Linked DNA regions of Homo sapiens: regions 1 and 3 are each linked to region 2. Evidence: fine-mapped expression QTL. A gene starts in region 2. Each other region holds a variant in brackets. All regions are shown on one strand. Distances are from middle to middle.

Region 1 (8,178 bases), 35 kb after region 2:
GGTGCACAGTGGCCTGCCAGCACTTGGGAGGGGCCACATGTGCAGTGTATTTAACTGGAGTTGTGTGCATGCTCACTTGAGGCATTCTCCCCTTACCAGTGTTCCTGGAGGAAGGTCATATACTGGTTAAACTCCGTCATTTTGCCCCTTAGTGTACATACTTGAGCCCACTCACCCAACTCTAGAGATCTCACTGGGAAGCTGCTGATTGCTAGTTTCAGGTGTTTCTCTCTACTAGGAGACTGCCTTTCCCTGGCACCAGCTGTGACCAATTCCTAGGTTGGTGCAAAAGTAATTGCGGTCTTTGTCATTAAAACCAATAACAAAAACCACAATTACTTTTTACTGACCTAAAGATTAATTTAGGGAGACAGTGTAACAAATGCTTTACCATCACCTGATGGTTGCCTGACATTCCTGGTGGTTGGGAGGGTTCCTCTCCTGCCCTGCTCATGGCTGGCTAGCTACCTACTGTAACAAGAGCACAGGCTGTCAAGCAGGTTTTTGGCTTCCCAGACAGGGCCCATGGATTTTGTGAATGCAGCCACTATTTATTGATGTAATCGCTCCACCCTATAGGGCTGGAGTTGTGCTTGGCCACAGAGTGCCAGATGGCCATTAGGTACCAGCTGCTTCCACCCAAGAACACTGTCACTCACAGAATGCAGCTGCACAGATACCAAGATGGAAGCCCCAACAGTTATCATGGATGTTAAGAAATCCTACCGCCACTTCAAATCACAAGACTAGCTAACATATACTGAATGCTTATCACACATCGGGTGCTGTGCTAAGCACTTCATGTGGATTATTAGTTCCTTAAATCCTTCCGACAAGCTATCATTTGACTTTCTAGGGACTCTTCTAAGAATAAAACTATCCTTGAACTACAGCACTGTTTTAGGAATTGTGGGAGTCTTCCCTTCCAACCCAACTCCTGTGTTCTCTTGGGGAATCCTTGAAGAGCTCAATGACTACTGCCCACTAAGTGCCCTCACACTACATGCTCCTTGTCAGCTTTACAGGACATGCGGATCCTGGGAGCCTTACCTCATTCTCTGTTGAAGAGAAGATACAATATAGTTTTTTGTTTATTGCCTGTGTGATGCTAGATCAGCTTGTGCCTTAAACTTGGTATTGAAGGGGTGACCTAGACAGAAACTGCCCAAAGAGTGAAATTTATTTACTAATAAGTATGAATTGTCTGCATGCAAAGGATGCATTTTATTGGAAAAATTTATCATGTCAACATATTTTTACCATATTATCTTGGCTATATTATAACAGTATAATGGAAAGTTATTGACAGGAAGGAACCTATGTTTTCAGTAAACCATCATGGACCATAGAATAAGTCTGCCACTGAAAAGGCTGTATTTATGATTATTGTAGGCAACTTGAGAAAAACCCCTGAGGGAACTTATGGCCAGGTGCAGTGGCTCACACCTGTAATCCCAGCACTTTGGGAGGATGAGGTGGTTGATTCCTTGAGCTCAGGACAAGGCAAAACTCCATCTCTACAAAAAATAGAAAAATTAGCCGGGCGAGGTGGTGTGTACTTGTAGTCCCAGCTACTCAAGAGGCTGAAGTGGGGGGATCACCTGAGCCCAGGGAGGTCAAAGCTGCAGTGAGTCATGTTTGCGCTACTGCATTCCAGCCTGGATGACAGAGCAAGACCCTTTCTCAAAAAAAGAAGTGATCTAGATTTTTTTTTAAAACATGCTGATAGTACAGAAACGTTCCTGGGGAATAATTTGACTGCAAGAGACGTTTTCAAAAAGAACTAAGATAGTTTTGATCCTATCTCAAACCTCCCCTTTAATGATTGAGGCTTTACATCAGTTATTTACAAGAAACCTGGAATGTCAGACAATACAATTTGTAATAATGGTGCAATTACAAAATTTGTGTCTGAAGGTTTTATGAGTCGTTATCAGCACAGCCTATTACTCAGTGGTCTAAGAGAATGGCCACAAAGTTGCTGCAAGTATCTCATCCCTCAGCACACAAGAACTGCCTGTGTAGAAGTACTAATCTGTCGGCATCTCTGGACTTGCTTCAGTCATTTCTGATCAGATTTAGCTTACTGTCTCTAAGACAAACAAGAGTATATTTGGGTTATTTATTTGTATCTATTCAGCTCTTTATCAGAGTGTTTTTTTTTTTTTTTTTTTTTTTTGAGACAGAGTCTCATTTTGATACCCAGGCTGGAGTGCAGTGGTGCAATCTCGGCTCACTGCACCCTCTGCCTCCTGGGTTTGAGAGATTCTCCTGCCTCAGCCTCCCGAGTAGCTGGGATTACAGGCACCCACCACCATGCCCAGCTAATTTTTGTATTTTTAGTAGAGATGGGTTTTCACCATGTTGGCTAGGCTGGTCTAGAACTCCTGACCTCAAGTAATTTGCCCATCTCAGCCTCCCAAAGTGCTGGGATTACAGGCGTAAGCTGCCGCACCTGGCCCTATTTGGCTGCTCCTGTTAGCCCTTTTGCACGGGGCTGGATTCCCTCAATTCACTTTTCCACGCAGACAGCTGGAGTAGGGACAATCAAATTATTTACTTTATAAATTATGCCATTATTACTTCTAAGAGTACTGGTGTCCATTACATCCTTTTCAAAGACTTTCACTGATCAGCTGAGATATCTGGCTTTTTAAGATCCATATTTTTTCTTTATCTTTGCCTCACTGTTTATCGATAGATATACCTGAAAATATAAAAGATTAACATGGTCCAGGGAAGCCAGTGTTTATGGAGTAACTATTTAAAGATAACTGGAGCGGACACTTGTTACTCTAGAAATTTCCCTGTATCTTCTGTTCCCATCCATATGGCTACTTTAGGAGTTGCCATCTTGGTTCAATGCCAGTCTGCCACTGGGCACAGTTGATTGGACCAAATTTAGCTTGCAAGTCAAGCTAGGCCAATCAAAGTTATTTCATGGAGAACTGGATTTGGAAAACAGAGGGTACTGTTTTTCTTTCTGGAAGCTTGATTGACAGGTGTCAAATATGCAAGCTGTTGGCAGCTTTGTGGTTTAGGGAGTACAGGGGTTGGTCCATAGCCAGAAGAAAAAGAGAAGCCAACACAACAAAGAGGGTAGAGGCTGGAGACAGAGGGTATTTTTGTTTCCTGGGGCTGCTGTAACAAATTACCACAAACTGGGTGGCTTATAATGACAGAAAATTAGGCCGGGTGCAGTGGCTCATGCCTGTAATGCCAGCACTTTGGGAGGCCGAGGCGGGCGGATCACGAGGTCAGGAGTTCAAGACTAGCCTGATCGATATGGTGAAACCCCATCTCTACTAAAAATACAAAAATTAGGCGGGTGTGGTGATGGGCACCTGTAATCTCAGCTACTCGGGAGGCTGAGGCAGGAGAATTGCTTGAACCTGGGAGGCAGAGGTTGCAGTGAGCCAAGATTGTGCCACTGCACTCCAGCCTGGGCGACAGAGCAAGACTC[C/T]GTCTCAAAAAAAAAAAAAAAAAAAAAGAAAAAAGAAATCTATGTCACAATGTCACATACCCTTATCTAAACCAATTACCAACAAAGGGTTTGGGAACCCATGATTGGCTTGGACCTATGAGGATTCAGCCCTTGGGCTGGGGCTGTGATCAACCCCTTGTGAAACACAAAGCTGAGCACAGGAGGGCAGATGCTGTTCTGAATCGAAAGAGGAAAGGAGGGTGGGTGAGAAACGCATGTTAAGTAGGCAACCAGCAGTGTCAGTGACACATGGCCGACTTATGTTTTCAAAATCCCAAATGACTCCAGGCACTTTCCACCAGATTTTTTAGCTTACCTCTAAACAGCCATCCATGTGCTGTAGGCAAATTTTGGCAGGAAGTGCCAGAAGGTAGCATCTCGCCCCTGTTCTAATCTGCTTACTGTGCCTCTGACATCAGTAGCACAAAGGGTAAAAATCAGTGCAGTCAGCTCTCCTAATGGCTGTATGACTTTGGAAGTGGCTGTTTGGAAGGTGGTTTTAAGAGACCTGTAAAAGGACAGACATGCTTCATGGTTGTGGCTCCCAGGTAACAACTCTGAAGGACTCAACACCTGGATTCCTGGCCAGAGCCCCTCAGGTGGCCTCCATGTAGGTGCCATAGCAAAGAATCCCATTTTTTTTCATCTAGGAAAAGGGAACAAAGGTGTGGTTCCGATCAGGGTGGTTGGTTTAAGTCCACAAAAATCATCTGTTAAGCAACTACTAAAGGCAAAGATGGACCAAATTGACCTGTTCTTTGTGGGCAGTCTCCATCCAGCTGCTACAGGCTCTAAATGAGCCACCATATAGTATGGCGGCTCATACTATCGGCTCAAGATAGTTGACCTTACAGGTCACCTGTGGAAAGCCATGGAACCCTGGCAGCAGGAACTATTTCTCTTTGGGACCAGGTTCTTGGAGAGAGAGACTAGGCTCAGCTTTCCTGCAACTTGCAGGGTTGAGTCAGGGTCATCTGGCCTGAGGCAGAGGCAGTCACTTGTGGGGACGGTGGGGAGTCTGTCCTAGTCCTCTCACCCCACCCTGGAGAGTTACCACCACTGAGGAAGGAGGAAGGAGATGTTTCTGTTTGTCATCTCATGACATCATCACAGCAGCAAATGATGTGGGCATGGTTGGGAGTGGTGGCTGATGCCTGTAATCCCAGCACTTTGGGAGGCTGAGGCAGGCGGATCACTTGAGGTCAGGAGTTTGAGACCAGCCTGACCAACATGGTGAAACCCTGACTCTACTAAAAATATAAAAATTAGCTGGGCGCGGTGGTGCATCTGTAATCCCAGCTACTCAGGAGGCTGACACAGTAGAATCACTTAAACCCAGGAGGTGGAGGTTGCAGTGAGCCGAGATTGCGCCATTGCACTCCAGCCTGGGTGACAGTGAGACTCTATCTCAAAAAAAAAAAAAAAAGGATTGGACATTAGCACTCCCAAGTTACATTTAAGGAACCTGCGGTTCAGAGAGGATAAGTTGGTTTCCAGGTCACACAGCCAGTTAATGGATTCAGAGCCCATGCGAGGTCCTGATGGATTGGGACACTGGAGATAAACACATGATGGAGGACAGTAGTTCAGGGGAGACCTGGAATGCTACTTGGGAGGGGACTCTCTGAAACAAGAGATAGCTTGGGGACATAGAAGTTGCCCAGAGAGGACAGAGCAGCAGGACAGGAGGTGAACGTGCATCCTCCTATGGCCACCGGTGGAAAATCATATGTATGGGATGCCCAAGGATCAGCTCTCTCCAGGGAGGTAGAGCTGGCTAGGATGGCAGTTTGTGGGAACAGTTTCTAGGAGGCAGGAAAGCACCAGGGGCTGAGGGGAATGGGGCCAAGGGTTGCTGCTGTTACTTGTGGATGCATTACTGGGAGGGCCAGGGGGAGTCCTGGCCGAGAGGAAATCAGACTTGATCAGGGAGATAAAAGCATGGATCAGATTCAAGTAGTAGTGAGGCAAGGATGGAATAGGAAAGGAACAGCAAGCTGAAGGCCTTGGAGGGGCAAGAGCTGGGCCAGGCAAGTGGAGAAGGCTGGACCCGAGGGTGGAGGCTGCCTAGAGCCCCTTATCATGCAGGGCTGCTGGGGGGCCTGAGGATGCCGCACAAGGGAGGACCTGGCCAGCTGGCAGAGCGATGATGCCACCTGTGTGTTTCATCTGAAGAGGGTTTATGACCTGGGGGCTGTATGTGTCCTGAGGGTAGAGAGGAGGAAAGATGGAAGATGGGGGTCTAGAGGGTTAGGGTAGAGAAAAGTGAGGATGTGAGATGCTGGAGGAAAAGTCTCCTGAAGTTCATTCTGACAGCCCTAGCCCTGTCCTCTAATCTCATCTCCCTCCCATTCCCTTCCCAATCCCCCTAGCGCAGCCTTTTTTTTGGGACTGCCAGCCACCCTTAAAGGGAAGGCCCCAACCCTTCCCTCAATTGGGGACCTCAGGGAGAGCTGGCAGGGCCCTGGGGCCCAGAGGGCTGGCTTCCTTCTTGTCAGAGGCAAAACAAAGGCACCTCCAGGGCTCAATGAAAACTCAGTTTGTTTTCTGGCTGTGGCCAAGGGACACCTTTAATTGCAAAACTTAAAACCAGCCCTTGTTGGAAATTGCGACAAGGCCAGACCATATGGGAATGTTTCCCGATGGAAAGGAGCATCTGTTCTCTATAAGATATGCAAATGACGTGTAATTGCACCTTCAGAGAGCTCTGTTTTCCGTCCCCAGCACAGTGCCCACAGGCGGGGGAATCTGACCATGGTTTAAAGTCCTCAGCCCTCCACCCACAAGACAGAGGATCCACGCTGAATCCACACTGCACGCTTCCCAGATTGAGGGACCCAGACCAGCCAGCGCCCTCTGCTGACATTCTCAGTCTTGTACTCAGGGTCCAGAAGGGGTTGAATAAGGCACACACTGCATTCCTATTCTGTTCCAGGTTTTGTGCAAAGTGGGGTTGTTTCCTTTAATGTGGGAGAAAACCCCAATGAGATCTTTTGCTTTGCAGACAAGGTAACCAAGGCTCGGAGGATTTATGTAGTTGGTCCGACATGTCATCTGGCACAGGGTGGGACTGAGATTCACAGCCAGGACTGACCGCTGGAAAAGCCCCTCGCGTGTCTTCTAACATTTACTGAGTGCCTGGGTCATTTCTTTAGCAAATGTTCTCTTATTCTGTCTCCTGTCTGCGAACGCCTGCACTCTCTGTCTCTCAGTCTCTCTTTGTCCCTCCTCCCTCCTGGGAATGGCTGAATAAGGGTCTTCACAAGAAAGGATCATTCCTTCAAAATTAATGCCGCATTTGCTTAAAATGTATTAGAAATGTGTTACAGCAAAAAGCACTTACAATAGCACTGGTAAAATGAAAATGTACATTAAGAAAAATTAGGCTGGGCGTGGTGTCTCACGCCTGTAATCCCAGCACTTTGGGAGGCGGGAGGATTATGTGAGCTCAGGATTTCGACACCAGCCTGGGTAACATAGTGAAACTGTGTCTCTACAAAAAATAGAAAAATTAGCTGGGTGTGGTGGCACACACCTGTTGTCCTAGCTGCTTGGGAGGCTTAGGTGGGAGGATTGCTGGAGCCTGGGAGATCAAGGCTGCAGTGAGTTGCGATTTCATCACTGCACTACAGCCTGGGTGACAGAGTCAGACCCTTTCTCAAAAACACCCAACAAACAAAACAATCACCAAGCCATTTAGAGGAACCAGCCATTCTCTGCAGGAAATAAAGGAACTAAGAGTTACCTCATCACCACTGCCACCACCATCACCACCATCATCATCAGAATGGAGGTGATGCGGTGGGGCTTCCTGGCGCTGCTCTTCACGGCTTGTGAGGAGCTCTGTGCAGCAGCTAGGCCAGGTGAGAACACAAGTCATGGGCCCTGGAGTCAGCCCTTGTGGCAAGTGACTTCCTTCTCTGTGATCTCCTTTCCATCTGTAAAATGGGGATCATAGTTCCTACATGATGGGTTTGTTCTGAGAGTTCAGGTGCTAATGTTTTTAGAAGAGTGCCTGGCCCCTAAGAAGTGTTTAATACACACTAGCTGTTATTACTTTTCAAGATCTTGCAGGAGACCCCGCATGGTGATTTGAGAACTTCCCGGAGTCCTGGGGTGAGAAACAGTGATCGCTCTGGCTTCTTCCACCAGAGGTACCAGGGTTTTTACCTTTTGTACACATCAGGAGGCTTGAAGACATTTGAAAAACTGCCTTAGGTTATAGGGGTCATTTAATCTCCTTGGGCTCCATGAGGTCAGGGAATGTCACTTACAGCATCCTTAGTGTCCAGAGAGTTCCTGGCATGGAGGAGATGCTTGATAAATTCACGCTGAATTGAATGGTGCCTCCTTTTCCTTTTCTTTTTTTGTTTTTTTGATTTCCAGGGATGTGATTTTGGTTCACTGCAACCTCCACCTCCCATGTTCAAGTGATTCTCCTGCCTCAGCCTCCTGAGTAGCTGAGATTACAGGCACGCACTACCATATCAGGCTAATTTTTATATTTTTAGTAGAGACGGGGTTTTGCCATGTTGGCCAGGCTGGTCTCGAACTCCTGACCTCAAGTGATCCGCCCGCCTCGGCTTCCCAATGTACTGGGATTATAGGCATAAGCCACCAAGCCCGTCATCCTTTTTCTTTTCTATAAAATGTAAAAAGAATGCCCAAGTTTTGGTATGAGTGACCTTTTTAAG
Region 2 (8,178 bases):
GAAAATATGGTGCAATTTCTCAATGAAATTGATTTCTGAGACCACAGAGCTGCCATTTAAAAAAAAAAAAAAAAGGCCAGGTGCGGTGGCTCACACCTGTAATCCCAGCACTTTGGGATGCCAAGGCAGGTGGATCACGAGGTCAGGAGTTCAAGACCAGCCTGGCCAACATGGTGAAACCCTGTCTCTACTAAAAATACAAAAAGCCGAGCATGGTGGCGGGTGCCTGTAATCCCAGCTACTGGGGAAGCTGAGGCAGACAACTGGTTGACTTGAGAGGTGGAGATTGCAGTGAGCTGAGATCACACCACTGCACTCCAGCCTGGGCTACAAGGTAAGACTCAGTCTCAAAAAAAAAAAAAGAAAAATGCCAGGCACAGTGGCTCATGCCTGTAATCCCAGCACTTTAGGAGGCTGAGGCGGGTGGATCACCTGAGATCAGGAGTTCAAGACCAGCCTGGACAACATGGAGAAACCCCGTCTCTACAAAAATACAAAAATTAGCCAGGCATGGTGGTGTGTGCCTGTAATCCCAGCTACTCAGGAGGCTGAGGCGGGAGAATCACTTGAATCCAGGAGGCAGAAGTTGCAGTGAACCAAGATGGCGCCATTGCACTCCAGCCTGGGCGACAGAGCGAGACTCCTTCTCAAAAGAAAAAAAGGTTAATAAGCCACACACATCTATCGTTTATCATCCAACAGGGTGCTGGGACAGGGCTTGGAAGGAAAGCAGGAAAGGTTTAGCAGTAAGAAAGAGTGGCAAGAGAGGTAGGGGGCGGGGGTGAGGTGACTGGGGACTCAGGGGAGGGCTGCAAGTCAGCTGCAGAGCAACAAGCACCCAACCTCAATTCTGCACCCAGGGAACAAAAACAAAAAAGGGAAAGGGGAGCCCGGCATGACTGACACCCACTTGGTGCCAGACCCCATTCTAGGGGATTCTGCATAGTATGGTGGTTAACCTTCACCATACCCCTGAAAAAAGCTAACAAAGCTCAATGAGGTTAAGGAACTTGATCACAGACCCACAGCATTTGAACCCCAGTCTGGTGCCAAAGCCCATGCTCTTTCCACTGCTCCTGGGTTAAAAGGACTTAACAGGGAGCCCTTCCTATCCCCAAACCCCTTCGCTTCCCCACCTAATCCCACAGCACCCCTTCCCCAGTTTCTAACAGCCCCAGAAGGACCTGGAGGCAGTATGGGATGATTATGCCTTGAAGATGACAGGTGTCAGCTTTTGACAGCTTTAGGTTGGTATGGCAATGAGGTGGTCAAGGAAAGGGGTTGGAACCTACTGTAGGGGCTGGGCTGACTTCCATCAGCTGGGGATAGCTGCTGATTGATAAGTCCTGTTGGGATGCTGTGACTGAAAGCTGTGGATGCTTAAGTTCTCCCTCCTCCCTCCTCCCCTGCACCTCCCTCCTCTACCCCCAGCTTGTTCCAACTAAGTGTTTCCTGGTGAGGAAAATGCTTCAACAGCCTTGGCTGGCTGAGGCAATTAAATTATGAAATTTACCACATTAGATGAAAACCAGCATCTCAATCAACCAATTCATTTGTGTCTGGCCACTCTGTTTTCTTGTGCCAGCTCTGCCCACACTGGCCAGGCTATGCCTACACTGCCTGGTGGTACAGAGGGACTAGGGGCTCAGACAATGGGCTGGTCTTTGGGACCAGGGGGTAGGTTCTCCCAGGACCCCCAGAGAAGAGAGGCTGCATCCAGAAGCCATCCAGCTTCCTACAAATGCGCTGGACTGCTGACTGTGCGGCCAGACACTACGGACGAGAGCAAACCTTCTACCACCTCCCACTTGCATTCTCCATGGCCTCAACCTGTGCCTATCTTGAGGCTGGCAATGAATTGGGCCTCTGGGAGAAGTGTGGGTGAGCGACAGGACAAAGGTGGCTGCCCTACACCTCGAATCTGGGCGATGACATGCCTTTCTCATCTTAGTCAAGGCATCCTCTCCCCAGGAAGCCTTGCCCACCTGTGTCTCCTTCTCTCCTCTTGCTGCCTCTATCACTACGATGTGTCAGGGCCCCTAATCCATGTGCCAGCACTCCCTCATCTAGGTGCTCACTAAAGGAAGAGTCTCCAGCACCTAACTCAGGGCCTGGCACACAGCAGGTGCCCAATCAAGTCTGTTCAAACAATGAATCAATCAATCAATCAGTCACAAACCACCCACTAAATAACACTCTCACTCATCCTACCCTTCCCCCCGCCCCCGCCCAAGTGATAGACGGGACGAACCAAGCTTGCTTTCACTGGGTAATTGTTCTCTTTTCTTCCTGCTCTCTTCTGCCCACACGGGGTGCCCGCAGATTTAAAACGCTATTAAGGGGCATCGGGCTGCAGAACCTGCTTCCGATGTGGAGCATGCAATTTGCCTATAGCTCTTCTCTCCGCACCACATACATAAATCCAACTGCAGCCCAAGACCCCAGGATGAAGGTGTCTTCCATTTCTACCTCCCTTTTATCAACCACCCTGGAGTCACTGCCTGACAAATGACTCAAAACTGAAATAGCTGCCAGGCCGGAAAAAGACTGACTACGTCAACCTTCACAGGCACAGCTTGTGGACCCAAGAGCCTCCGGTCTTGGGACACCAAATGGACCCTGAGGTGGGGTAGACTTTGTGTCCTACTCTTCCCCAGACCCCCACGCAAGCCTTCACCAACATGCCAGGAATCCTCACAGCTCAGATCAGCACACTGAGCATCAGTTCCTCCTATGAATGGGGAGACTGGGACCCAGGGTCCCAGAGGGCTTGGCCCCATAACGGTCACTGGAATCTGGTCCAGGATACAGACCGTGGAATCCTGCCTCCTCTCCTGGTGCTACTGCTAACTTCCTTCCCTTCCTCTCTCTATTGGGCCGATAGAGTGGAACCAAATGGTCCAGACACCTGGCATTCTCTGCCCTGACTACCGAGGAGAGTCAAAGTCCAGCCCGCCTTCCCCAAGGTCAAATTCACCGGGATCCAGCAGGACCCAAGAGCGTCCAGATTAAATCTGCAGGGGCCTGGGTCCGCCCCCTCACCCACAGTTCGTTGGGTCAGGCCTCTAGAGAGATGTTTCTTTGTTCAAAGACAATGGGAATGCACTTTGGGGGCTTAGAGCAGCAACACAAAAAAAGTATCTGGTATCTCCCGGGCACAATCCCCCAAGAGAAAAGCTTCTAAAGCAACTACGAAAGAGACAGGGGGAGTGGGGGCGTAACATCGCGCGGTGTGTCTCGGAGCCAGGGCAAGTGTGGTAATTAGAGTCAGGCTAGAGGGCTTGCTCTGGACCTGCCAGTCTGGCCGCCACCCAGGTGGACAGGTGGGTGTGCCTTTGAGTGCGACCTTTCTCTGCCGCTGGACAGTTCTGCAAACCGAAACGAGGGACCCTGGCAGGCGGAACGTGAACGGCTCGGGGCTCCGCGGCCAGGCCCGCGCAAACCCTCCCCTTGTGAACCCCGGGCCCTCGCTCTGCGCCAGGCAGGCAGCCATCCGGCCTGGGCGTCCAAGGCGCGGGGCATCGCCGCTCGCGTCCTCAAAGACAAGCAGTCTCTCTTTCCAGGATCAATAGTAATTTTTTAAAAAAAAGAGTCTGCGGACTCAATGAATCAACCACTCCCTGGGGAAAGAGTAGCGGCTCCCGCGCGCAACATCCATTTGCCAAACAATTCATTCCCTCGCGCAGAGCTCTCGGCGAATTCCCTCGCGGAGCCGCGGGGTGCCGGCCGGCCGCCGCTCCCCACCATTGTCCCAGGGCCCCGGCCCCAGCCGCGGGGCCCCCTCCCGGGACACGTAGTCCCGCGGGGGCTCCGAGCGCTTGGTCCCGGCCCGGCCCGGGGTGGTGAGTCCCCAGCGCAGGGAGCGGGGGCGCGGGTGCTGCGGCCAGAGCACGGCGTCCCCGCCCGGCCTGGATACTCACTGCCGGAGACGATCCCCGCCGCCGCCGCCGCCTCAGAGACCACTCCCGGCAGCCCGCGCGAGCTCAACAGGCTCCGCCGCGGCTCCCGTCGGCCGGCTCTCCACAGGCAAAAACGCTCTCGCTGCGATACAGCCTAGGCGCCGCCAACAAACTAGTTTCTCCGGCCTTCCCGCCCCGCCTCCCGGCCCGAAGAGCAGCAGCCAATCAGAGGCATCGCCTCTGTGACGGATGGGCAGCCGAACCCTTCAGTGCAGCCGCAGAAAAGAAGGGGGTGGGCCCCAGGCCGCGCCGGCACCGGGGGGTGGGGGGCCGGGGGCGGGGAGGGGGGGGGACCGGGGGCGGGGCGGGGCGAGGAAAAGGACTTCGACCAGATTCTTAAAGAGACAGGCGCCTGCCCAACCCCGCCGCCCAAGTTTGGGAACAAAACGCGACGGTGTTCTAGAGCTTTCCAGAGGGAGCACTGTAGATTGCATATGCCTCTTTTGTGTTCGGGTCACAAGTGTTGTAGATCTCTTTAGACTCTTCAGAGCCACACTAGTAGTTGCCCGAGTGTTAATGAAACCCTGTCTTTCACTCTGGGCTTGTTTGAATGTTTGGGACTTTCTGCAGCCTCCAAACCCCACCTGTACTTGAAATCTGTATTTTTTGGAGTATTTCAGCTCTCCTCTCTGTGTCATTTCTCACTAAACTCCTTTCGTAAGCCAGCCTTTAAATGTTCGTTCATTCATTCATTCATCCATCCATCCAATAATTTCTTCCAGGAACGTTTCCTGGACGCCCACACCATGCACTCATCTTGGAGGGGGAGAACGGTTTGTGATTCTTCGTCCTTTTCCCTCCTGACTACTACTTCAGCTTACTGTGTGTGTCCAATCTCATCCGTAAAGCGGCAGATAAAAACTCCTCATCGGATTATTTGGGGGATTAAAGGAGACAAATTCCCAGACAAATGAGTGCGCAATAAATGTCCTCTCTTTTCTCCCTCCCAATGAAAATCGATAATTCAAGTAGGTTGCTTAAGGATACAAAAGGTAAAGCATAGAAAGTGATAAGAACGAAAGAGCCAAGCCTGGGGCGGGGAAATTCCCAGGAAGCAGAGGTCACCCTGACGGAGGTGGAGGTGGGAGGTGCAAGGAAGGTCTAAGAAAGTGTACAAAGATTTGGGAGAGGGGATAGGATTGTGACTAGTGGAACCTGGGAAATAGAGCCCCTGGGTAGAAAGCTGCTTAGACAGGACAGATATGCCAGGGTTAAAAGACTGGGAGATGATGAGAAGATACCACCAGGGAAGGCATTTTTGGGAAACAGCTTGATGTTCTGGGTTTGAAGCCCCGCCCTGCCCCTCAAGAGCTGGGTAGGACTGAAGCAGATGGCTCAGACTCTCTGGTGTCTGGTTCTTACTGGTGAAGAGGATTCTAAAACCTTTCTTGCAGGGGTATGGGAAAGATTAAGATAACATATGGAATAGGCCTGGCATGTAGTAAGTGCTCAGTACAGATTTGTGCTTCCATTTGGCCCAGATCTGCAGACATCTAAGGCACCAGGGTTCTGATATTTATGAACAATATTGGCCAGAGGTAAGAAGCTTGCCAAGTGCACTGTTAAGGTGCCTTCTGAAGAGAAAAGGTAGTGAGAGGTGAAGCCAGCTGGACTTTCTGGGTCCAGTGGGGACTTGGAGAACTTTTCTGTCTTACAAGAGGATTGTAAAATGCACCAATCAGCGCTCTGTATCTAGCTAGAGGTTTGTAAAATGTACCAATTAGTGCTCTGTAGAAATGCACCAATCAGCACTCTGTGGCTAGCTAGAGGTTTGTAAAACGGACCAATCAGCACTCTGTAAAATGGACCAATCAGCAGCACATGGGCCTGGACAAATAAGCTAATAAAAGCTGGCCGCCCCCCAGCCAGGAGCAGCAACCCACTTGGGTCCCCTTTGGCGCTGTGGGGGCTTTGTTCTTTCGCTCTCCACGGTAAATTTTTCTGCTGCTCACTCTTTGGGTTCACGCCACCTCTAAGAGCTGTAACACTCACCGTGAAGGTCCGCAGCTTCATTCCTGAAGTCAGCGAGACCACCAACCCACCGGAAGGAACCAGCTCCAACACATTAGCATCAAAGTAATTACTTCATTAAGGAAATGACAGAGATCACATTTGTAGTTTTATCCTGCCGATTTTCTAGCACTAGAGTGTTTATAGAATTGTTGGTTGAATGAAGCTCCACATGCAAAATTGATTCTTGGCAAGTTTATAACTGTTGCTTATTATTTTATGCAGGTTCGCTGTAAAATTATAAGTGCCAACCGCCCAGTAAAATCTGGTCCACATTATAATTTTTTCTCTCTTCAACTCCAAGGCTTAAATTAGGTACTAGAATATATTAAAATCAAATACAGTGTAAGCAATGGGACAAAATCAGACTAAGAACACGTGTGGAGTTAATCGAATTTAGGTACGATTTGAAAGAAGATGAGAGGAAGAGCGGAAGTTTGCCTTGCCATCTATTGCGGACCCTGGAGCATTACCGTCAACGCAGCCCTTACCAGCCAGTGTTGTAATGGCCTGCTTAGCTAGTCCACCTGCTGTGCAGGGAGCTCTGGGAGGGCAGGGACCATGAATTCATCTCAGAACTCTTAGGGCTGCATCAAAGTTGTCTACACAGTTTTGAAATACTGTGAATAAATCTCATATCCGTTAGAATTAGTTTTTACTGCATATGACAGAAAACCCAAAATTAACTGTGACTGAAACAAGATAGAAGTTTCTTGCTTATGCAAAATAAAGCTAAAGTTAAGCTATCCTTTGTTGGCAACTCCACAGTTGTCAGAAACACGGGCTACTGTATTTTTATTCCTTCATCTGTAATGCTTGGTTCCCATTTGCAAGGTTGCCCCATAGTCCAAGATGGCTGCTAGGGCTCCAACTCTGACACCTATATCCCAGACAGTAGGAAGGAATAATGGCGGAAGAGCATGAGATGTGTGTCTTCCAGCCTGGTTAGCTCTATTTATGCAGACTGCAGAAGTCCCACACAACACTTTTGTTTATGGACAGAATTTAGTTTTCCTACCTGCAAGAGCAGCTGGGAAATGTAGACTTTTATGTTAGTACATCACCTCCTCAAAGTCAGGGTTCTGTTAACAAGGAAGAGGGAATAGATGCCTGTTGTCCACCAACAATCCTTACCAATACCTTCCTCCCAGCATTGCCATCTAGCTAGTATTCCTGGTGGCCCAGAATCTGAAGTCTCAGAAATTCTGGGATGATGTATAGAATTCAATATATGTTCGTTAATAGATGATCAAATTCTTGGTTCTTTTTTTTTTTTAAAGATGGGGTTTCACTCTTGTTGCCCGGGCTGGAGTGCAATGGCGCAATCTCAGCTCACCACAACCTCTGCCTCCCGAGTTCAAGCGATTCTCCTGCCTCAGCCTCCCGAGTAGCTGCGATCACCAGGCATGCACCATCACGCCTGGCTAATTCTGTATTTTTAGTAGAGACGGGGTTTCTCCATGTTGGTCAGGCTGGTCTCAAACTCCCGACTTCAGGTGATCTGCCCACCTTGGCCTCCCAAAGTGCTGGGATTGCAGGCGTGAGCCACCGCGCCTGGCCTCTTGGTTTCCTTTCTACCTTCTCAGGTGTTCTTTTTAGTCTCCTCTGCTGATTCCCCCTCACTTCTCAGACCTACAAATATTGGAGCGCCCGGGAAGCGAGCGTAGGGAGCATAGGGAGATAAGAAGACCTATTCCCTTCCCTACCTACACCTTCTAAGTGATTTCATCCAAGCCCATGCCTTACGTTCATATAAGCACTGGCAACTGCCAACTCTGTGCTCCCACCCCGCCTTCTCCATAAGCTCCAAGCCCATGGGTGCAGCTGCTTACTGGGTATCTCCATGTGCATGTCTAGGGCACCTTACCCTCAAACTGTCTCCGCTGAGCTCCTATGGCTGCTCTCCCTGTGGGCTTCCCCATCTCAGGAAAGGACAACGCAGTCTTTCCTTTTGTAAGATAAAACTTGGCATCATTCTCTCCTACCCCATGTCCAATCCATCAGGAAATCCCTGTTGAGTCTGAGTACTTACTACTTCCACTGCCACCCCCAGGCTGGTCTAGAGACACTGTCATTTTCTCTCCTCTGTGACATTATGGCAGCCTCCAGGCCATCTCCCTCTTCCACACTGCTCCCATAGAATCTGTTCTCAACACAGCAGCCAGAGGGATCTTTTTATAAGATAATTTCGTTATGTCTGTCTACCCCT
Region 3 (8,178 bases), 28 kb before region 2:
CCCCAAGGCACCCTGAGTTGCTGAAAGGAATACAGATGACAGCTAGAGGCACAGGGGTTGGGGAGCCTCGGGGCCAGGCTCCTGTGTTCCCTCTCAGGCTGGGTCCCTTTGTTCCCTCTCAGGCTGGGTCCCTTTAATTTTTGGCAGGTGCTCCCTGGGGCCTGGCCTCAACTGTGAAATGGGCTAATCCTCCAGCTTGCAGAGTGGACAAGGGTCAGCGGCCGCCCTGCACTTCCTGTGTGCAGCAGGTCTTGGCCAACGTGCATCCTGTGGGTTGTTGGTGTAGGGCCTGCCCCACTAGGCTCAGCCTGCCCCATCAAGGGTGGGATGCTGCTCTATCCCCCAGCCTGGCACAGGAACGAATGACTGCTGATGCCTGGACGGACGGACTCCGTCCTGGGCACTTGCTTAGCCAGGCCCAACCCTCAAGGCTGGCAGAAATCCTCAGGCCTGTGCTCTGGGATTTCCCATCTGTAGCAACTTCTTTAAGACAGGAGAGAATGTACTGTACTGTCCCTCCTGCAGCAGTGACGGAGCCCACAGTGGATTAATGAGCTCGGCCTTTCCCAGAGCCAGGACTGGAACCCTGCCCTGCACCCCAGTGGCTAGGCCCCAGCAACACCCTGAAGAGAAGACAAGCTGTCGGCAGCCGGATGCCTGCCTTGCATTCGGCAGCCCCCCCATGCTGGAGGCGGGTGGGAAAGAAGGGTTGGGAGTCTGCGCCTTAAAGGGCCTGGAGTACGGGGTGCCCAGTGGGAGAGAAAGAGAGAGAAGGAGAGAATGTTCACAGCAAGATCACCCTTAGTGGGTAAGCGGGGGCCTCCTGCAGCCGCTGGCTGCTATCCCCTAGGCTGTGGATCCAACCGCAACACTGGAGCAAGGGGCTGCCCTGGAGGTCGCTCAGGTTCCAGCTCAGCAATTCCCCGCCGCTTCTGGACGGCTGCTGGCCAAGCCTGTGCTCTGTGCCAGGGGCGCAGACGTGAGGATGCCCGTGGCCAGCTCCCCAGAGGCGCCTGCAGGCAGGCGGCACACTCAGGGCTCAAGTCCTGCTCCAGCCCTGACTCACCATTCATGTGATGCCAACTGTCTCACCTCTCAGAGTCCTAGTGGGCGCCCTCCAACAGCAGGACCTACGACAAACAGCTCTGGAGAATGACAGGGAACTCGATGCAGACGCTCACACCTATGAAGAGCTCCAACAGGTGGCCAGAACAGGGGAAAAAAAATGCTTGTGGACAAACAGGGGCCATGATCTGGGGTGCAGAGGCCACAGTGTGCAGGGGACCTCCTGGTGGCTTCTGAAGCTAACGTCAGAGTCTTACAGGATGGATGGAAAGGGGCCTCCAGGGACAGGGGCAGTTGGGCCCAGCTGGAGGCAGGAGACTCAGCCATGCTCGTGGGGACTAGCGAGAGCTGGACTTCTCACCAGCATCCTTGGCCTGATCCCCACTGCTGCCTGGGAGAGTAGCGTCAGGGAGGGAAACGTAGGGAGCGGGGTGGTCACAGAAGCCATCTCGGGCCCAGGCACTGCCAGACGACATTCTAGGTGGCAGACGACGATGCGCTGGTTGGGGCTGCAGGCAGCCAAGCTCAGTGGGAAGTGCCATGGTCACCAGGGGCACCCACCGCGGGGGAGGTGGCAGGAGTGCTTTGTTTCCACCCTTCCTGGCCCCGGTCTGCGGCTGCCTGAGTTGGGGGCTCTCCTCTGGCTCAGCCCTGACAGCTCCGCAGTGGCCGCCTGAGCAGCGAGAGCTCTGCTTGCAGCCACTGTGGCTCCATTTCCTGGTGACCCAGGGAAGGCCAGGCATGCCCGGGCAGCGGCTTCTGGGCTGCAGGCCCTTCTATGGAGAGCCCAGCTCACTCCCTGCCTTTGAAGAGAACTCGGACACTGAGCTGTCCAGGCAGAAGCTGGACAGGAGGAGCTTTGCAGAGCATGGGAACAACCCAGGGTCATAGTGAGGGGACAGAAGCCACGGGATTGGGGTGGCCTCAGGCTGAGGAGGGGCTGCGCGGAGGGTCTCTGGATGGCCACCAGGCCCATGAGAAGGAAGCAGCTGGAACGCAAGGCAGTGGCAGAAGCTTAAGAGCAACCCGGACTCAGCGCAGCAGCCAAGGAAGCACACAGCCCAGAACGCCTTGGGGACATGGCTCTGGGATGACAGGGTCTGGAAGTAGCTTCCCCATCAGATCTGGGACTGGCTCAGTCTTGTGTGTCCGCTTCCTCATCCCTAAATGGAGCTGATGACAGCAATCCCATTACAGACTGAGGAGGACTCCAGTGGGCACAGGGCAAGTGCCTGCTGAGGAACAGCAGTCATGGGTGGACAGGCCTTTCAGAGGGAGGGGCTAAGCAGAGACATCTAGAGGCCCTTGCAGCCCACAGCACCCCAAAACCATCAGCATCAGCATCTCCCTGTCCTCCATCGCTACCCCTTTTAAGCTGCTTCTGAAACTGGCAATCACTTGATCTCTATTCTAGTGCTATGAGTAATACAATTTCCACTCCCGTTGTCCAGATGGGGAAGCTGAGCCTCAGGGGAATCAAGTAGCCAGTCCAGGGTGAAGCAGCCAAAAAGTCACAACCAAGACACCATGCATGCTCTCCTTCCAGGGTCCCTGGGATCAGAGCAATTCCTGGGAGAGTACATGGTTCACCAGGTCCAGTTGACAGGGCAGGGCCAGGTGGGAGGGAGCCTCTGACCTGGAGGGTAGGCAGGGGGCAGCCTCTGGTCTGGAGGCTCAGACCAGAGATGGTCTCAGCTGCCTGAGGCCAGCAGCATGGGCCCCCTCACACTGCCCAGCCCGGCTGGCCTGGGGTGGGAGGGGCCTCCATTTCCCACAGGTGACATTCCCCAGGTTTCTAAATGACCTAGAGGATAGCAACAGGGAATTAATGAGGAGATGCCAGTATCCTCTTGGAATCTCACTCCTCAGGGAATCAAGAAATTTGGCAGGTCTGATTTTTCTCTAAAGACAGCAGATTAAAAAAAAAGAAGACCGGGCACGAAGGCTCACACCTGTAATCCCAGCACTTTGGAAGGCCGAGGCGGGTGGATCACCTGAGGTCTGGAGTTTGAGACCAGCCTGGCCAACACGGTGAAACCCCATCTCTACTACAAATACAAAAATTAGCTGGGCATGGTGGCAGATGCCTGTAATCCCAGCTACTCAGGAGGCTGAGGAAGGAGAATCGCTTGAACCCAGGAGGCAGAGGTTGCAGTGAGCAGAGATCGCACCATTACACTCCAGCCTGGGGGAGAACGAGACTGTCTCAAAAAAAAAAAAAAGAAGAAGAAGAAGAAGAAGAAAACAGAAAAGCTGTAAAAGAAAAAAGCAAGCCAGATGCGGTGGCACACGTCTGTAATCCCAGCTACTCAGGAGGCTGAGGAACGAGAATTCCTTGAACCTGGGAGGTGGAGGTTGCAGTGAGCAGAGATCGTACCCTGCACTCTAGCCTGGGTGACAGAGCGAGACTGTCTCAAAAAAAAAAAAAAGAAAAAGAAAAAAGAAAAATAAAAGAAAAAAGAAAACTGGTGTTCCTATTCAGGCTGGCCTCTGTGAGCCCAAACACCCTGTGTTCACCAACTTGATGCTTATGCTTGGGCCCTCCTTGCCTGCCACCATGTCCCTTTAAGGGACTCGAAGGCTTGGCTGGATCTGAGTTAGAGGCTGAGCCATCAGCTTCCATTGAGAAGCAATCCCAGCTAAGAATGACTGCCTTCACTGGGTAGAGCTTTCAGCATTTGTATCAGCAGCCGCTGGCTCACTGAGGAAATTAATGTTTAGCTCGGGCCAGCTCCTGAAAGGGTTCCTATGACCTGAAGCTGAGCCCACACGTGGGGATCACTGCCACCACCCAGCGCTGCAGGATCGTGGGAAGCGGCTGGGCTCCCTCCGGCAGGACAGCTCATCTTCCACAGTCTCGTCCTGTGCTGGAGGCAGAGTGCACCCAGGGATCTTATGCCCCTATTGCAGGGGTGAGGGGCCCAGGACAGCATGAGCCGGGAGAATGGCCAAGGGCTAGTGGCACGCACCCTGGCCTTTCCCAGGCCCTAAACACAGAGGGTGTGTTGGGCACAAAGCCCTTCTCTGGCATCTACCCCAGTACCCTGCCAGGCTGGCCGGGATACCCTCTCTCGTGGCAGGACCTCATGCCGATCCTGCCCCTATTTGCTGCGGGAAGACCCCGCCCCCAGCTCAGCTTCTCAGGAGATTAAACCAGCACCAGATGAGACACTCCTCCCGCCCGTTCCTTCCCTTCACTGCAGGGTCTGCAGGGCCTGGCTCAAACTGCTCCCAGTGTCTCTGTCCCACCATCACCTCCCACAGAGTGCCTTCCGTGTCACCTGTTTTCATAGCGATTCCACACAATGACAGTGTGGCAGCAACCCACAGACACTCGCTCTGCAGGAAGCCCTGCTCCAAGGCCCTCAAGGATGA[C/A]CTCGCTTAAGCTAGACGCCTGCCGGCTTCGAGGAAGGACTTCTCCCCATCCCTTGCATGCTGGTGAGCACACAGCTGCCCCCAGGAGAAACAGGACTCAAACCAAGGCTGTCTGTTCCCACCATGCAGGCTTTGGTGTTTACAGTTAACAGTTTTTTGGAGGACTCCACCATTTAGACATGGATGTCATGCCTGGTTGGCGATCATTTTTTTTTTTTTTTTGAGACGGAGTCTCACTGTTGCCCAGGCTGGAGTACAGCGGCATGATCTTGGCTCACTGCAGCCTCTGTCTCCCAGGTTCAAGTGATCCTCCTACCTCAGCCTCCCAAGTAGCTGGGATTACAGGTGTGCACCACCATGCCTGGCTCATTTTTTGTATTTTTAGTAGGGATGGGGTTTCACTTGTTAGCCAGGATGGTCTCGATCTCCTGACCTCATGATCTGCCCACCTCGGCCTCTCAAAGTGCTGGGGTTACAGGCATGAGCCACTGTGCCCGGCCAGGACTGACTTTCACATTGCCCAGGCTGGTCTTGAATTGGGCTCAAGCCATCTGCCCACCTCAGCCCTCCTAAAGTGCTGGGATTATAGGCATGAGCCACCATGCCCGGGCCTGGTTGGCAATCTTCATACATATCATCACTCATCAGTGCCAGGAGAGTAACACTGTCCTGACTCCATGGGGAGGGGGCCATTCTCCTGGACTCTGCCTTAGTACATGTCTCTTCCCTTGGCTTATCTTAATCTGTATCTTTCCCCTATAATAAACTGTAACTGTGAGCATAACAGCCTTCAGCGACTTCTATAAGTCTTTCTGGCAAAATTGACCGAGGGTGGTTTGGGAGGCCCCCTTTGTTGCACCTGGTGTCAAAAGTAAGAGCAGGCTTGTGTGGAGACTGCACCCTCAGACTCTGCAGGTTGACCTATGCTCCACACAGCACTGTCAAAAGGTCCCTGGGTGATTCTGAAGTATAACCATGTTTGGGAACCACCATGTTGGTCTAACCATGGTTACTGTCCCCATTTTGCAGACTGGTTCAATAATTTGCTCCAGGTTAACTGCAAATAGAAGGCAGAGCCAGGATTTGACTCCAGAGCACACCAGCCACCTGCTGCCCACCCAGACTTCCCTGGAAGACACGGTGACCTTCACCCAGTGGGAAGAGGTGGGACTGCATTCCCCCATGACCTTTCCGGACCCAGAGTGGCCGTGGGCTGCCAGGGACTCACCTGGCTGGGCTCAGCAGGTGCTCCTCACGCGGGCAGGTGCTTCCAGGTGCTGACAAAGGCCGTGGGGATAAGTGAGTAGGGCACTGTGGTGATGCAGTTCCATGTATCTGAAGTGGGGTCATAGCAGTCCAGAGTCTTACACCTCTGGGTCCCAAAGTAGCCCCCGACCACATAGAGCTTGTTGCCGGAAGCCAGGGCATGGCAGGACATGCGCTTGGCAGTCATGTCCCCAATCCGCGTCCACTGGTTGGTCTCACAGTCAAAGCGGTAGGCCGAGGCGGCTGTGAATTCCGTGTCACCTCCCATGATGAAGATCTGGCTGCCCAGGACGGCAGCGGCTGTGTACCGCCAAGGCTGGGGGCACTCGGCCTTGATCGTCCACCTGTTCTCCGAGGGGTCATAGCACTGGACCTTGGACACCATGTCCCGGTGGATGCTGGTTCCTCCGAAAACAAAGAGCTTCAGCTTGGCACTCACCACTGCGGCATTGCTGACGCCATCCCGCAAGGGGGCCACCATCATCCACTTGTTGGCCCCAGGGTCGTATTTCTCCACTTGTTTCAGGGAGACAGAAGGCGAGGCCGGGAAGACCCCTGCCAGGGATGTGTGTCCCCCCACCACATAGAGGCAGTTCTCCAGCTCAGCTGAGCCATGGCCAAAGCGGGCAATCAGCATGGGCGCCGCCTTGGACCATTCCTCATGTACGGTGTCGTACACCCAGACATCCTTGGAGACCCCGTTCTCGGAGCCCCTGCCCCCCGTCACATAGACCTTGCAGCCGATCGCTGAGGCGCTGAACTCCTTCCGGGGGCTGGGCAGGTCGGCCTTGGGGATGATCTCCTTGGCCTTGTGGTCCACCTGGTAGATCTTGTCACACATGAAGGTCTGGCCCCCCAGGATGAGTAGCGTGTGGCCCGCCTTGCGTGGCCGGGCACAGGGGCTGGTGACCACGCCATCATTCTGCAGGATCCTGGTCTTGCAGCGCAGGGCCTCATCCATGATAAGCTTGGTGCGCTCGTCTGCCATGAGGAGGGCCTCGCTGGAGACGGCCTCCTGCAGGCAGTCGGACGGCAGCAAGGCCAGACGCACGCTGCGGAGGAGCTCGGGCAAGTGGACCTTCCGTGGCTCCAGGTCGTGCTTCACCCACTGGAGGATGGCCTCGAAGACCACCCGCTCGTCCTCGGTCTCCAGCTCATCACTCGAGATGAGGTCCAGCAGTGTGTCCTTGGACAGGCTGTTGAAGTCCTCGCTCTGCCTCACCGTCTCAAAGTGCACCAGGCACATGCGCCAGGAGAACTCATACAGCCGGCGGCACTGGTGGGCGTCCGAGAGCAGCATCATGCCCAGGCAGTTGGAGGGGAAAAGGTTCTTCTCCAGGAACTCGGCGGCAGCATCCCGCACATCGTGGAACTGCAGCATGTCGCCTGCCTCCAGCAGTGACTCAGCGTTCTCCTCGTTGATGGCGATGCGTGAGGAGTAGGCAAAGTCCAGCAGCAGCTCCAGCACCTCCGGGTGCAGGTTGTCCTGGAAGTTGACAGTGTCATCCCGGCTCTCCCGAAGGCCATGGCTGAACATGGCCTCAAAATAGCGGCTAGAGGCGGCCAGCACGGCACGGTGACAGGGGAAGGCACGGTCGCCCGCCCAGAGTGTGACGTCGGTGAACATGCAGTGCTTGCGAAGCGTGTTGAGGTGGGCCAGCACACAGTCCGGGTGGGAGGCCTTGTGGAAGAGGGTGACGTTCATGGACCCCGTGCTGCTCCGCGACTTGCGGGTCTCATGGACACTGACCGACATGGTGCGTCAGCTTGTGGGGGAACAAGCCCACAGGTTAGAGGAGCCCCTCCTGCCCATCTGCCCTCTCAGGGCTCACTCTTCAGCACAAGCCCCCTTGTCCCCTCCCACCCACTCTCTGCTCACCTCTGCTAAACCAAGCCCCTCTCCCGCAACCACGTTGCCAAGGACAACACAGGCAAGAGTGGCTGGGTCTCACCCTGCCCTGCAGAAACTGGTTTTGTTCTCAGGGTATGAGCCAGCTCTGGGACAAACATCTCTGGCCTGCAGATGAGCCACCCCCTAGGCAAGCTCCAGTTGAGGCTGCCTCCCATGGTTAAGAGAACATGCAAACGGTGTTCCTGACTGAGGCTGGTGTCCGGGCAGTGCTAAGTAACTGGTGCCTTTGACCACATTCCACTCTCATGACAGTCCTCTACAGAAGCTTCTCTTGTAAGTCCCATTTTAGAGCTAGGGAAGCCACAGCTCAGAGAGGCCAAGAAACTACCCAAACTGCCACAGCCAGGATTCTCACATGGGCTGTCCGGCTCTGGAGCCTGATCTCTGTTCAAGGTGACTAATCCCTGCAGGGTTTGCTGTGGACGCCCAAGCAGAGCCTCACGTACCCACTTCCCTGCTCCCAGCAGGCTCTGCCCTGGGCCGGGCTCCAAGCGGTACTGGCTAGACATCCCCCTTGCCTTGGAACAAGAGCCGCCATCAAGGCCCAAGTGCTCAGTGGA

What was found. PIP is the estimated chance that this variant, and not a neighbour inherited with it, causes the effect.
Region 1: its variant is fine-mapped to the expression of KLHL25 in unexposed skin (GTEx, PIP above 0.99).
Region 3: its variant is fine-mapped to the expression of KLHL25 in whole blood (TOPMed, PIP above 0.99).

Annotation. Positions count from the first base shown.
Region 1 is chr15:85,825,368-85,833,545 of GRCh38, forward strand. It overlaps MIR548AP (microRNA 548ap), which reads left to right and starts at 268; the gene lies at 268-363. The variant C/T (reference allele first, on the strand shown) is at 3,464.
Region 2 is chr15:85,790,846-85,799,023 of GRCh38, forward strand. It overlaps KLHL25 (kelch like family member 25), which reads right to left and starts at 4,080. Exons shown (of 3, transcript NM_022480.4): 1 at 3,921-4,080. RefSeq lists silencers at 3,751-4,050, 4,201-4,270.
Region 3 is chr15:85,762,349-85,770,526 of GRCh38, forward strand. KLHL25 (kelch like family member 25) reads right to left here. Exons shown (of 3, transcript NM_022480.4): 2 at 5,669-7,472. The coding sequence starts at 7,462. The coding sequence ends at 5,693. MIR1276 (microRNA 1276) reads right to left here; the gene lies at 8,148-8,178. Among named protein-coding and RNA genes, the nearest start is that of MIR1276, 4.1 kb to the right of the region's middle. RefSeq lists enhancers at 1-305, 1,040-1,773, 1,774-2,506, 5,438-6,212, 6,213-6,986 and 2 more. The variant C/A (reference allele first, on the strand shown) is at 4,441.